Regions from separate parts of the Homo sapiens genome. Here region 2 is linked to region 1. Evidence: fine-mapped QTL for protein levels in blood plasma. A gene starts in region 1. The other region holds a variant in brackets. All regions are shown on one strand. Distances are from middle to middle.

Region 1 (4,998 bases):
AGTGTGGGGACAAACTCTCCCTTATTGGGCAAATATTTCCCGGGGCGCTACGCTAAGCACACGGGCTCCCCGAATTTCCCTCCCCAGGGCCTCTCTGTCTTTGGATGGCCTGTCAGCAAGTCCCTGCAGCCTCCAGCCCGGCCCGCGCGGCGACCCAGTCCCCTGTCGCCCGAATCTTCCACCGCTGCGAAGCGTCCCCGGGCGAGCGCCCTGCTCTCCGCGCTGCGCGGAAGCCAGAGCCGGTCCTCACAGTGAACTCGCCCAGCCCTGCTCGCGGCTCTCTCGATTTTATGTGGGTTTCGTTGGATGCATTTTGTTATTTGCCTCAATGGATGTTTCACATTAATTTTTAGTTGCACAACGAACGCGCGGGAACATTCTCCGTGAGAGAAAAAGCACGGGTGGGGGGCGGTTACCGGTGCTTCCCCCGGTCGCCTGGGGGTCCCGCACGCGCCCCGCGGGTGCCGCTGTCTGGCTGGGGTCCCTGGGTGAGCCGCGGGCACCGGCTTCGCGTCTCCCCGGGCGCGACTCCGCTTTGCAAGCGCTCAGCACACGGGAAACCCTCGGAAAACACACACGTGTGTAAAGTTTGTTCCACGCAGAAACAAAGGACGCGTGGGGGCCGCTTCTGGGGCCTCGGTCCTTTGTTGGAACCCCGCACCGCAGCCCGGCCCGCAGCCTCGCCCCGCAAGGGGAAGCCGGCCCTGCACAGGCCCGGGGCCCGGAAGGCGCCGCCGCACAGCTCTGCGCCCCCGACCCGCTCCGGCCGCGCGCTGGGCCAGGCCCTTGGCCTCAAGCCTCCCGGGCGGCTCCGGGCCGGACCCGGGTCTCCGTCGCGGGACGCCAGCCTGTTTGTGGGTGCCGTGCTCGGGCCCGGGCGGCCCCTGCCCGACGCGGCCCCACGGAGCCCCTGCACGAACCCCGCCGACCTGGCCCGGGGCGGCAAGTCGAGGTGCTTAGGGCGCCCTGGGCCCGGCCAACCGTGGAAAACCCGGCCCGGGGCACGGGGGGGCGCGGGGGTCGCAGGGCCAGGGCCCAGGCAGGGAACAGAGATTTTTTTCGCGGGGAGGGGGGTGGGAGGTGTCAAAGTTTTCGGGGAACTTTTCCACTTGAGATTCCACGACCCTGCAGTGCCCCCTACAGAAAGCGGCAGCTGGGGAGGGCGGGCGCCCCCGACGACCCCCGACTGCCAGCGGCGGCGCGGCCAGGCTGCCTGGAGTTCTTGTTCCTTTTTTTTTTTTTTTTTTCCTTTTATTTCCTCGTGGTTGTTTGTCGGATACATCTTTTTCCAGAGTGGGAAAAAAAAAAAAAAAAGCGAGCGCCGCCGCCTGCAGTAGAGCGTGCTCGGCCTGCAGAGGCAGTCGTCTCCAACTTTTCCTCTCCCGCTCCAACTCCCCGCGCCCAAAACTTCAGTTCTTGGGGAGCCCAAATTTGCCTGCCGCGCAACTTCCACTCTAATTCAGCGACCAAGGGCCCTGGCAGCGGTTTGCAGCCTGGGGGCCACGCTCCCCAGGCTCAGGCCTGCTCGTTGGCCTGCTCCTAGTGCCTGGACCCAGTTGGGGGAGGCGAAACAGGGCGCCCGAGGAGCACCCCGGGAGAGGGCGGAGCACTCCCGTGCCCCGGGGCAGGAGTGCAGGGAGCTCCCGCGCCCGGAACGTTGCGAGCAAGGCTTGCGAGCGTCGCAGGGGGGCACTCGCGAGGGACGGACAGGAAGAGGGCCAGGGGGGAACGCCAGAACCCGGGACCACAGCACGGAAACGGTCCGGGGCTGAGCTGCAGTCAGATCCGGGGATGGAGGGAGCCGGAGAAGAGGAGTGAGAAGGCCGGGGAGGCAGGCCCTGCTGTCTTCCTGCAGGCCGGCAGCCTGCTGGCAGTGGAGGACCAGGCCGTCCAGGAAAGGAAGGGGTCAGGAGGTCGGGCAGGGCCTCAGCAGGTTCAGACAAGTCCCCAGAAGGGAGCTGCAGGCGCCCTCGAGTCCAGGCCCCAAGCCTGGCTCCGGTTGTCCAAAGAGGGCCTAGGCCAGGCCTCTGGTGCGGAAACTGAGTCACAGCCAGACCTCAGGGCACGGCCTAGACGCTTACGAGCCAAAGTTAGGGGTAGAGAGCAGAGACCTCCGGGGGGTCTCAGGGAGTAGGGGGCTTCAGGGCCTCCCAGTCTAGAGCCGGATTGGCGAGTTAGACGCTTGTAGATCCAAGGTTGGATTGGGGTGGGGTCTCTGGGACGTTGGATCGCTACGCAAGGATTGGGGGGATTCAAGTGCTTAGAGATCGAAGTCTGCCCTGGGTAGGGGGAGTCAGACAATTGGAAAGCCTAGGTAGTTATTTGGGGAGGGGTCTCTACGCCTTGGCGAAGCGCACAGCTGCATCTTTTTGGCTTGAGGCCTGAGGCCTTGTCGAGAAGCTTCCGTGAAAGGGTGGGCCAGCCGGGCCACGAGAAAGAAAGTGAATAAATCAGGAATATAAGTGGGCGGGGGGCCCCTGAGAGGGGGGTCGCAAAGGGTGAGACATGGCCACCAGGCGTTTAACCGACGCTTTCTTGTTGTTGCGGAATAATTCCATCCAAAACCGGCAGCTGTTAGCCGAGCAAGTGAGTAGTCACATCACCTCCAGCCCTCTGCATTCACGTAGCATTGCTGCGGTGAGTCTCCTGGCGGCCTCTCCGACACACGGACCGTGTGCACTGCGGCTCTGCCTGTTTGTCTGTCTCTGTCTGTCTCTCTGTTTAAAAAGAGAAGATAAGAATAATAAGACTAAGAATAATAAGATCTCTTGGCTAGAGTCAGGGGGCATCTGTAGCCCTGGATGAGGAAGAAGCGGTGCTGTGAGGCCGCAGCTCCACCTCTGCCCGGTCTTCTCCTCACTTCCGCAGCACCCCCCCCCCCGCACCCCCCGCCTTGGCGTCACTGCGCTACAGGCCGCCTGTAATTTACATATGTTTTAACGCTAACATTGGGAAGCATTGGGCCTTTCTGAAGCCTTTTTGTTTCGTTTTGTTTGAAGCTCCCCTCCCCCCAGTAATGAGCCTCAGTTTGGTCCTAAGGGCTGGGTCGCCGGATCGTAGACCCAAATCCTTGCAAAATGAACGACTCCCTCCCCTCAAAGAGGAGGGAGTTGTGTTGTTGTTTTGTTTTGTTTTGTTTTTCCGCCCGTTTTCTTTTAACGGCCCCGCAGCCCTCTGTGTGGCCTTGTTCCCTGTGAATAATTGCCTCACTGTTCTTCCTGGGGGCTTGCGTTTGTGAGACTCAAGGTGCTAGCCTCTTCACTTTCCATTTCCCAGACAGGAAATTAAGCTTTCCTCTCCATTCGAACTTTTTAAAAAAAGCCTGAGGAGGTATATGTGAAAATTAACCCCGTAAAATAGCACTTTTTTTTTTTAATTAACCACAACCTTTAGTTAGCCTAGCAGTAGCGTTTTTTAAGGGTGGTCCTGGAAAAATTACTGTTTGGGGTTTGTTTTTAATGGGGGCTACTTTTCCCTTTCTGAGCCTCAGTTTACTGCTCTGTTAAATAAGGGGCGAGTCTGGATGATCTATACCAGACAGTGATCGTTAGCTCTGTAATGTCTTCAATTGAAAAGTGAAGTTATGAAACTGGCTGTAGTTCAGGCTACCTGCTGTAGGCAGACTAGGTTGGAATAGAAGCAGCGTTGGAACAGGCGGGAAATAGCCATCCCAGGACCACATTCTTGGGGGTTATACTTGATATTAGGCAATTTTGGAACATTCATTTCACCTCTTAGGGACTGTATTGCCAGTTTATTTTTTTCTTTATGGCTTTATCTAAATGCTTCAGGAAAATTTTGCCATATGTCATGATTATCATGTCTACAAAGACAGTTTCTCCTTTTTGTAAGTCACAGGTGGAGAATGTCTTTGGCCATATAACTGATAGAAAAGTCATTTTAAGCCGTGTGAGCGGTTTCAGGAATAAAAGCATGTAAACTCAGGTCAAACAGCCTAGAACTAGGGACAGAGTGTGTGTGAGATTTCAGTTAATTAAGAAGTTGAAGGGTTTTTTTTACATTTATAAACGGAAAGGAATTACATTATATTGAAATAAATGTAAAGATGTCTGGTAGCATAGAAACAGGCTAATTCTAGCGCTAATTTTGAAGAAGAAATAATCCAAGAAATCGAGTAGAAATTGGATGAATTCAATTCCTTAATGGAACTTCAGTAATGTTAAATAAGAACTGCATGTTCCTTAAATGACTTGATTTTGTGCTGCCTCAAAAACTACTGAAACTCATATTAAGATTTCTAAGGTATCAGTTTTAATTGAAAAACATATTGTTTATTTTTCAATTTTTAATCATTAAGGTTCAAAATACCCTGAACCTTTGGGTAACATGAGGGTTTTTTTTTTTTTCCCGATTAAGTCAGACAGTTTAAAAACCTAGTATCTGAGACGGGAAGCTTTTTAAAAGTGCATCTCTGAATCAGACCACTTTAGAAAATTATTTTCTAAGTTAGGCAATTTTAAAAAATATTTAAGCTAAGCAGAATAATTAAAAATGGATAGTTAACGTATACAGTTTGGAAAAATAGATATGTCAGGGTATATACAGATACATTTAGCTAACTCACAGTTTTTTGAAAATAGATTTCTAAACCCAACTAAAAATACATTTCTAAGAACGTTAAAAAATGTTTTCTAAATGTCATACCATTGAAAATGTTAATATTTATATTAGTCTGACCATTTAAAATCTTTCTCAGATCATTGAAAGCAGTCATATCATTTAAAATATCCTTATAGTCAATCCATACTATCTCAAAAATAGGTTTTGCAGTCTAACAAACATAGTTTGCCTGAATTCAAATTTAAAAATAAAACACAGATTTATATATTTTAATTGTGTTAAAAAATGGCATGTCATAAATTTCTGAAGTATTTAGGGTTGAAGTGTTACATCTTCACTTTGCTTACAGGTGATTCGTAACAAAATCTATTCTGCACACAGTACGGCGAAATGCTAACAAGACTAAATAGAGGTTAT
Region 2 (5,526 bases), 11 kb after region 1:
CCATGTGAACTGATGATTTAAAAAAGGCTTTGGGAAGATCGTTTACTAGTCTTGGGAAAGTGTCTTAACTTTGGAAGCAGTAAAGGTTGAACACTTTCTTCAAGGAAGCCAGAATGTTTTGAGAATTAATGTCTGTAGCTTCCTGATTTCTGAGAAGTGAGTCGTGCACTTCCTCAGGTAGACAGTATAGAAGGCCAGCATGTCTGTGAAGGCCCTAAATGAGAAGGACTGTAGCCACGGCAACTGTGGGAGGGTCTTCCTTGTCACTCCTGTCTGGAATGAGATGACACCCAGTGGATGCACCTGGAGCTATTGTCACCTGGGCCCAGTTCTGCATCTCCTAGCTGGGGGTGCCTTTGGCCTTTTTATTAGCTACTAGCATCTTGCCCAGAAGGTGGAGAGAATATATATTCAAAGCACTTTATTTTAGTAGCCGGAGTAAAAGGGTTGAGAAAAAATGAGATTAAAACTGTTGTTAATGTTTGTGTCTATTGTCTGTTTCAGCATTGAAGGGGTAAGAATATTTTTCCTGAGTATAGACCTTTTAAGTAGAGTGATGGAGAGGTGAGGGTTGTTCTTGTTTGTTTTCATTTAGAAGTATGAATAGTAAAGTAGGATTAGGAGGATCACTGTCCTTAAAACCAGTGGGGTCCTAACTAGTAGATTCAGATCTACCTATATATTCTAAAAACCTTAACTAGTTGATAATGACAACAGACTGAGCACAGCCTAAATAGCCTTCATTGGGAACTGGTTAAATATATTGTGTAGCATCTCTGACCCTCTGTAACAGGTAAATAGTGAGGCCCATCCATGAGAGCTGCAGTGGAATAAGCCCCAGACACATGGCGGAGTGGAAAGACCCAGATGCAGAGCAGCATGGATAATATGATTCCTGCTCCTTTTTTTTTTTTTTTTTTTTTTTTTTCAGGAAAAATAACTCATATTTATGCTTGTGTGTGCTTAAAAAATTCCTGAAAAGATACACAAGAAACTGTTAACAGTGGATACACCCCAAGAAACATCTGGGATAGAAAACTTCCTTTCTATTGCAAACCCTTTTCTTAGGGTGGATATATATTTTTAAACCATGTGCATGTATACTTTGCCACTAAAAACAATTAGTTAAAAAAAAAAAACACCACTCAACGGGTAGCTGACTGAGCCAGGTGTCATGGTCATGCCTGTGTGGGGGTTTCCTTTCCCATTCAGGAACCTCACTGCCAGCTCCCCGCCTGGGCACGGGGCCCTGGAGAGGGCTTGGGGGCTTGGAGAGCAGGCGTTCTGAGTTAAAATAGATGTTGCTACTGGCTGAACAGTTTGAAGATATGGAGCTTATGACCTCAAAAGGAAGTGTATAGGATGCGAGGGAGGGTAACAAATTATGGAACCACTTAGGTTGAAGAACCATTTGAATAATGTTCCAAGGAGGGGCACATAAGTGGTCATAATTACTTCGGGGTCTGCTGTCTGAACCGATTTCCAGTCTTTCCTACTTCCTTTTTCAGGCAGCAAGTTCCAGAAACTGGCTACTCACTGCATGAACTTGGCAGGCCCTTTTGCTTTTCTTATGTTTCACCTCTAAGGGCTTAAAAGGGAGTCTTCACGCTCTGTGATCAGAGGCCCTGCGTAGAGAGCACTATCTCCTCCACGCTCACCCCAGTGCTATTAGAAATGCAGGTTGCTGCCTCATCGTGGGTGCCCACGGCCACCTCATTTCCTTGTGCGTTTCACTTGCCTCTTTTGCTCTTTTGTGCAGTGCCGTTATCTTTTTCATGAAGTGTGGCTTCCACAATTGTCTGTGACGTACATTTTATTTACCTCGTGCATTCATTCCACTCGTTTCTTGTCGGATCACTCAGCTGGTTGTGATTGTGCGTTCAGGACTCTGAAGTGCCAGGTACTGGCCTAGGAGCAGGGGGTGTGGTTGGGGACAGTGTCCAGAGGCTTCTTTGAAGCTGACGCAGGGCCTCACATTGGCATCTCTGGAAATAGTGAACACCCAGCTCCAGAGTGGATTAGATGTTAGCCACCCCTTTATAGGGGAGGCCTGAGCAAATGTCCCTGAGTGAATATCACTTGCATCTCCCAGAGTAAAGGCATCTGACGGCCTCACTTCAGAGGCTTCCTGCAGTCTGTCCATGTTTGATTGTCATTCTCCTCCTCTAGCCTGAGTACCCTGGAGATGTCACTTTTCCTTCTCAGAAAACACTAAGTAAGGTGTTCCCTGAGGAGGACCCGAGCCCACCATTGGTTCTCTTACCCAGGGAAGTGTCTGGCCCTCTCCTTTGTTCTCTGTCTTTAATCTACTTCCTGTCTTATGACAAAGAAATCTCTGGGAGTTTTTAAACTCAAGAATTATTTTAAAAGTCACAAGATAACAAATGTCAAGCCCCCAAACCACACTGCCTGGAGGACTGCACATCTGGGAGTGCCTGGGCCGGGCCCCAGTGTCCATGTTGGTGAAATAGGGAGCGGCGCTCCTCTGAAGGATTGTTCTTGGGACTGGCATGGGCCAGGTCAGTAGCAGTGCTCAGTACAGTGCTCACAGAAGGCAGGGAGGGACGGATTGCTCCCCTCCTTTTTCTTCCCCTCAGAGTATGTATGTTAGTTGAGAAAAAAGGAAAATCAGTGAAACTTAACAACAGTATCAGGGTGATGTGATTCTCAAGTGTTTTTATCTCTATATTTTTTGTATCATTTATTTTTATTTTTTTGAGACAGAGTCTCACTCTGTTGCCCAGGCTAGAGTGCAGTGGCGCGATCTCGGCTCACTGCAACCTCTGCCTCCCCAGTTCAAGC[G/A]ATTCTCCTGCCTCAGCCTCCTGAGTAGCTGGGACTACAGGTGCGTGCCACCATGCGTGGCTATTTTATTTATTTATTTATTTTTGTATTTTTTAGTAGAGACGGAGTTTTGACATGTTGCTCAGGCTGGTCTCGAACTCCTGAGCTCAAGTGATCCGCCTGCCTTGGCCTCCCAAGTGCTAGGATTACAGGCGTGAGCCACTGCGTCATCCTATGCCATTTTAAAAGTATTTATTTTGACCATTTACTAATTTCATAATTAGAAAAGGTAAGCATTATTTTAAAATTATTACGGGTTTAGAAAAATGTAGTGCTGACATCACTTTTTTCTTTTATCCACATGCTTATTCACTTCTCCAACAACTCGGATTTCTTAAGCCTAATTGTCTATTAGCGAAGTAGTCTGACTTCATCATACAGGCTCCCAGAGTTTCACGTGGAAGTGTGAGTTGCCAGTCTGTTGATTTTCAGTGTCCCTTCTGGGCTTTCCAAGTGTTCATTGCCATAGACAGTCCAGAATTATCGGTATTGTTCTCATTACCAATGCGTTACGGCTAAACTTAGTTGATTTTTTTAGATGGGGAGGAGGTGTAGCTGACTTTTCCAATCTCCACAGAGGCTTTGCTATTTCTGTAATCTTAGTCTACACTAAATCAGCCTTCAGGGAAAGGCAGGGTTTTTAAGAGTAGGAGGGCCATAGATTTGGAACAGCAAGATTTATAAGAGAGAATGTGTATGTTCTTTCCATAGATGGAGAACTTGTCCATACTGGCTGGTACTCTTTAAATGGACAAATGTCAACATTTGAAGTGGATCAAAGGCAAAAGATACCTTTAGTGAGACTGGCAGGAAAGCCATTGGGTGTGCTGTTTTGAACATCTGTTGGATTTTTTCTGCATTTCTCTCAGGAAGGATGGCTCTAGGTTAGGGTAGCGGACCCCAGTAGTTCTTGGAGAGAGGAACTACATATCAAAGAGGCAAGAATTCTTAATTCTCTTAAGTACAATTTTTATTTAAAAAATATGGATTTTTTTTTTTTTACTTCAGAAGCACAAATTTATTTATTTATTTATGTATTGAGATGGAGTCTCGCTCTGTCTTAATAAAAGGCTGGAGCACATTGGCACGATCTTGGCTCACTGCAACTTCTGCCTTCCGGGTTCAAGTGATTCTCCTGCCTCAGCTTCCCGAGTAGCTGGGATTACAGGTGCATGCCACCATGCCCGGCTAATTTTTGTATTTTCAGTAGAGACGGGGTTTCACCGTGCTGGCTAGGCTGGTCTTGAACTCCCGACCTCAGGCAATCCGCCTGCCTCAGCCTCCCAAAGTGCTGGGATTACCGGCGTGAGCCACCATGGCCAGCTGCACAAACCAACATCATATATTTGGAGGGGGCACCATGTTGAAATTCAGTAAGGGTAAGGAGAGAGAATTAGAAACCTGGCCATTTTTTAAGATCTGTATGAAATAGGATGGCAGCTTGAAAATTGATACATATGCTGGATCTTCAACAATAAGAAGACATGTTTTTAAATGGAAAGTGAGGTTTCTGAAATTAAAAGGGTGCTTATGTTGCACATAAAATTTGTTTATGTCCATATTTGTTCCCATTTCAAATAGTTGACGCTTATCTTCAACAATTGTTTTCCCTTCCCAAAACATACTGTCTTGTTTTTTAATAGTACATACTGTGATACACATTACAAATCCATACTGCTAAAAGAAATGACACATTTCTTCTCAATAGGGTGGTGTTTCTTTATTATAATGAACTATAGCTATAGACTGTATCATAAAAGAGACAAATTATTCGCTATTTAAAGTTTTCATTCCCAAAGAATCAGCTGTTCTATCTTACTGGCAAAACTCTGATACAATGTGTGGGAAAGCTAGTACCAGCTGAGCAGGCTGGCATCCATGCTGTTCATGTAGGAATCTCTAATTAGCAAGCTTCCTTAGGACCCTTAACAAAGAGTGTGTTCTCCCCACTTTTGATTTACATCTAATTTGAGGGGAACACATGCATAAAATCAAGTACTGCTTCAAAGAGTTGTATTCACTTCAACCGACTTTTCATATGTGGTTTATAATTTGTTGTTTTGGATAAAATGATACTAATCCCAATGCAGGTAAATTTAGATAGATACCATCTCTCTGTCTTCTTTAGTTTAATGTGTATTTGTAAACAGTAAAAACAGTACAAAATAAGATCATGAGCTTAAAAACTCTAAAATCACTATAAATAATTACTGATTGAAATGTGTAATAATAAAATATAGTGGATTCGATAATAAACTGGTGTAGTGGAAATTCTAGGACCCATGAAGAGGTCCTTTAGCAATTTTAGATTTTACTTTGTATAAACAGCTGGAGTTCAAGTTCTGTTCCAGTCCAGCAATACTGTAGACAGCACCTGATGTATGGCTGGCAGGTGCTGCGAGCTGGGCCTGTGGTTTGTCCCCCTGCTTTTTAGTCAGTGTGTCCTCCACAGAGTTGTGTACCTCTTGGTGACTTTGGAGCAGGAGTGTTGAGGAATAAACAAGTCTGCCTCTGAGTGCTTGGCACAGGCCCTCTCTGTGCCTGCTCTGTAGAGGGTGAGGTCTGCGCCTCTCTGTCCACGGATGGTCAGTAAGAGAGGATGATCTTTACTGACACTAACGTCACTCACTGGCGGCCTGTCCTATAGTGCCTGGTGTAGTTGGTGGGAAATGAATCAAACTACTG

Direction of the effects. Positions count from the first base shown, and alleles are read on the strand shown. Strength reflects both the effect of a copy and how common the allele is.
For the plasma level of the protein whose gene starts at base 1,782 in region 1, A is the high allele of the variant in region 2 and G is the other (weak association).

What was found. PIP is the posterior inclusion probability: the model's chance that the variant is causal. Protein levels are from antibody-based Olink assays in UK Biobank. Linkage for the fine-mapping came from a reference panel and not from the study's own genotypes, which makes the PIPs less certain.
Region 2: its variant is fine-mapped to the plasma level of the STX16 protein (UK Biobank, PIP 0.94).

Annotation. Positions count from the first base shown.
Region 1 is chr20:58,649,502-58,654,499 of GRCh38, forward strand. STX16 (syntaxin 16) reads left to right here and starts at 1,782. Exons shown (of 9, transcript NM_001001433.3): 1 at 1,782-2,637. The coding sequence starts at 2,506. It overlaps STX16-NPEPL1 (STX16-NPEPL1 readthrough (NMD candidate)), which reads left to right and starts at 1,752. Exons shown (of 23, transcript NR_037945.1): 1 at 1,752-2,637. LOC107985410 (a long non-coding RNA gene) reads right to left here and starts at 134. Exons shown (of 3, transcript XR_005647058.2): 1 at 1-134. RefSeq lists a silencer at 685-1,044 and enhancers at 2,541-2,810, 2,648-3,151.
Region 2 is chr20:58,659,812-58,665,337 of GRCh38, forward strand. The region is part of intron 2 of STX16 (syntaxin 16); the gene reads left to right. The region is part of intron 2 of STX16-NPEPL1 (STX16-NPEPL1 readthrough (NMD candidate)); the gene reads left to right. Among named protein-coding and RNA genes, the nearest start is that of STX16, 11 kb to the left of the region's middle. RefSeq lists an enhancer at 1,456-1,955. The variant G/A (reference allele first, on the strand shown) is at 2,803.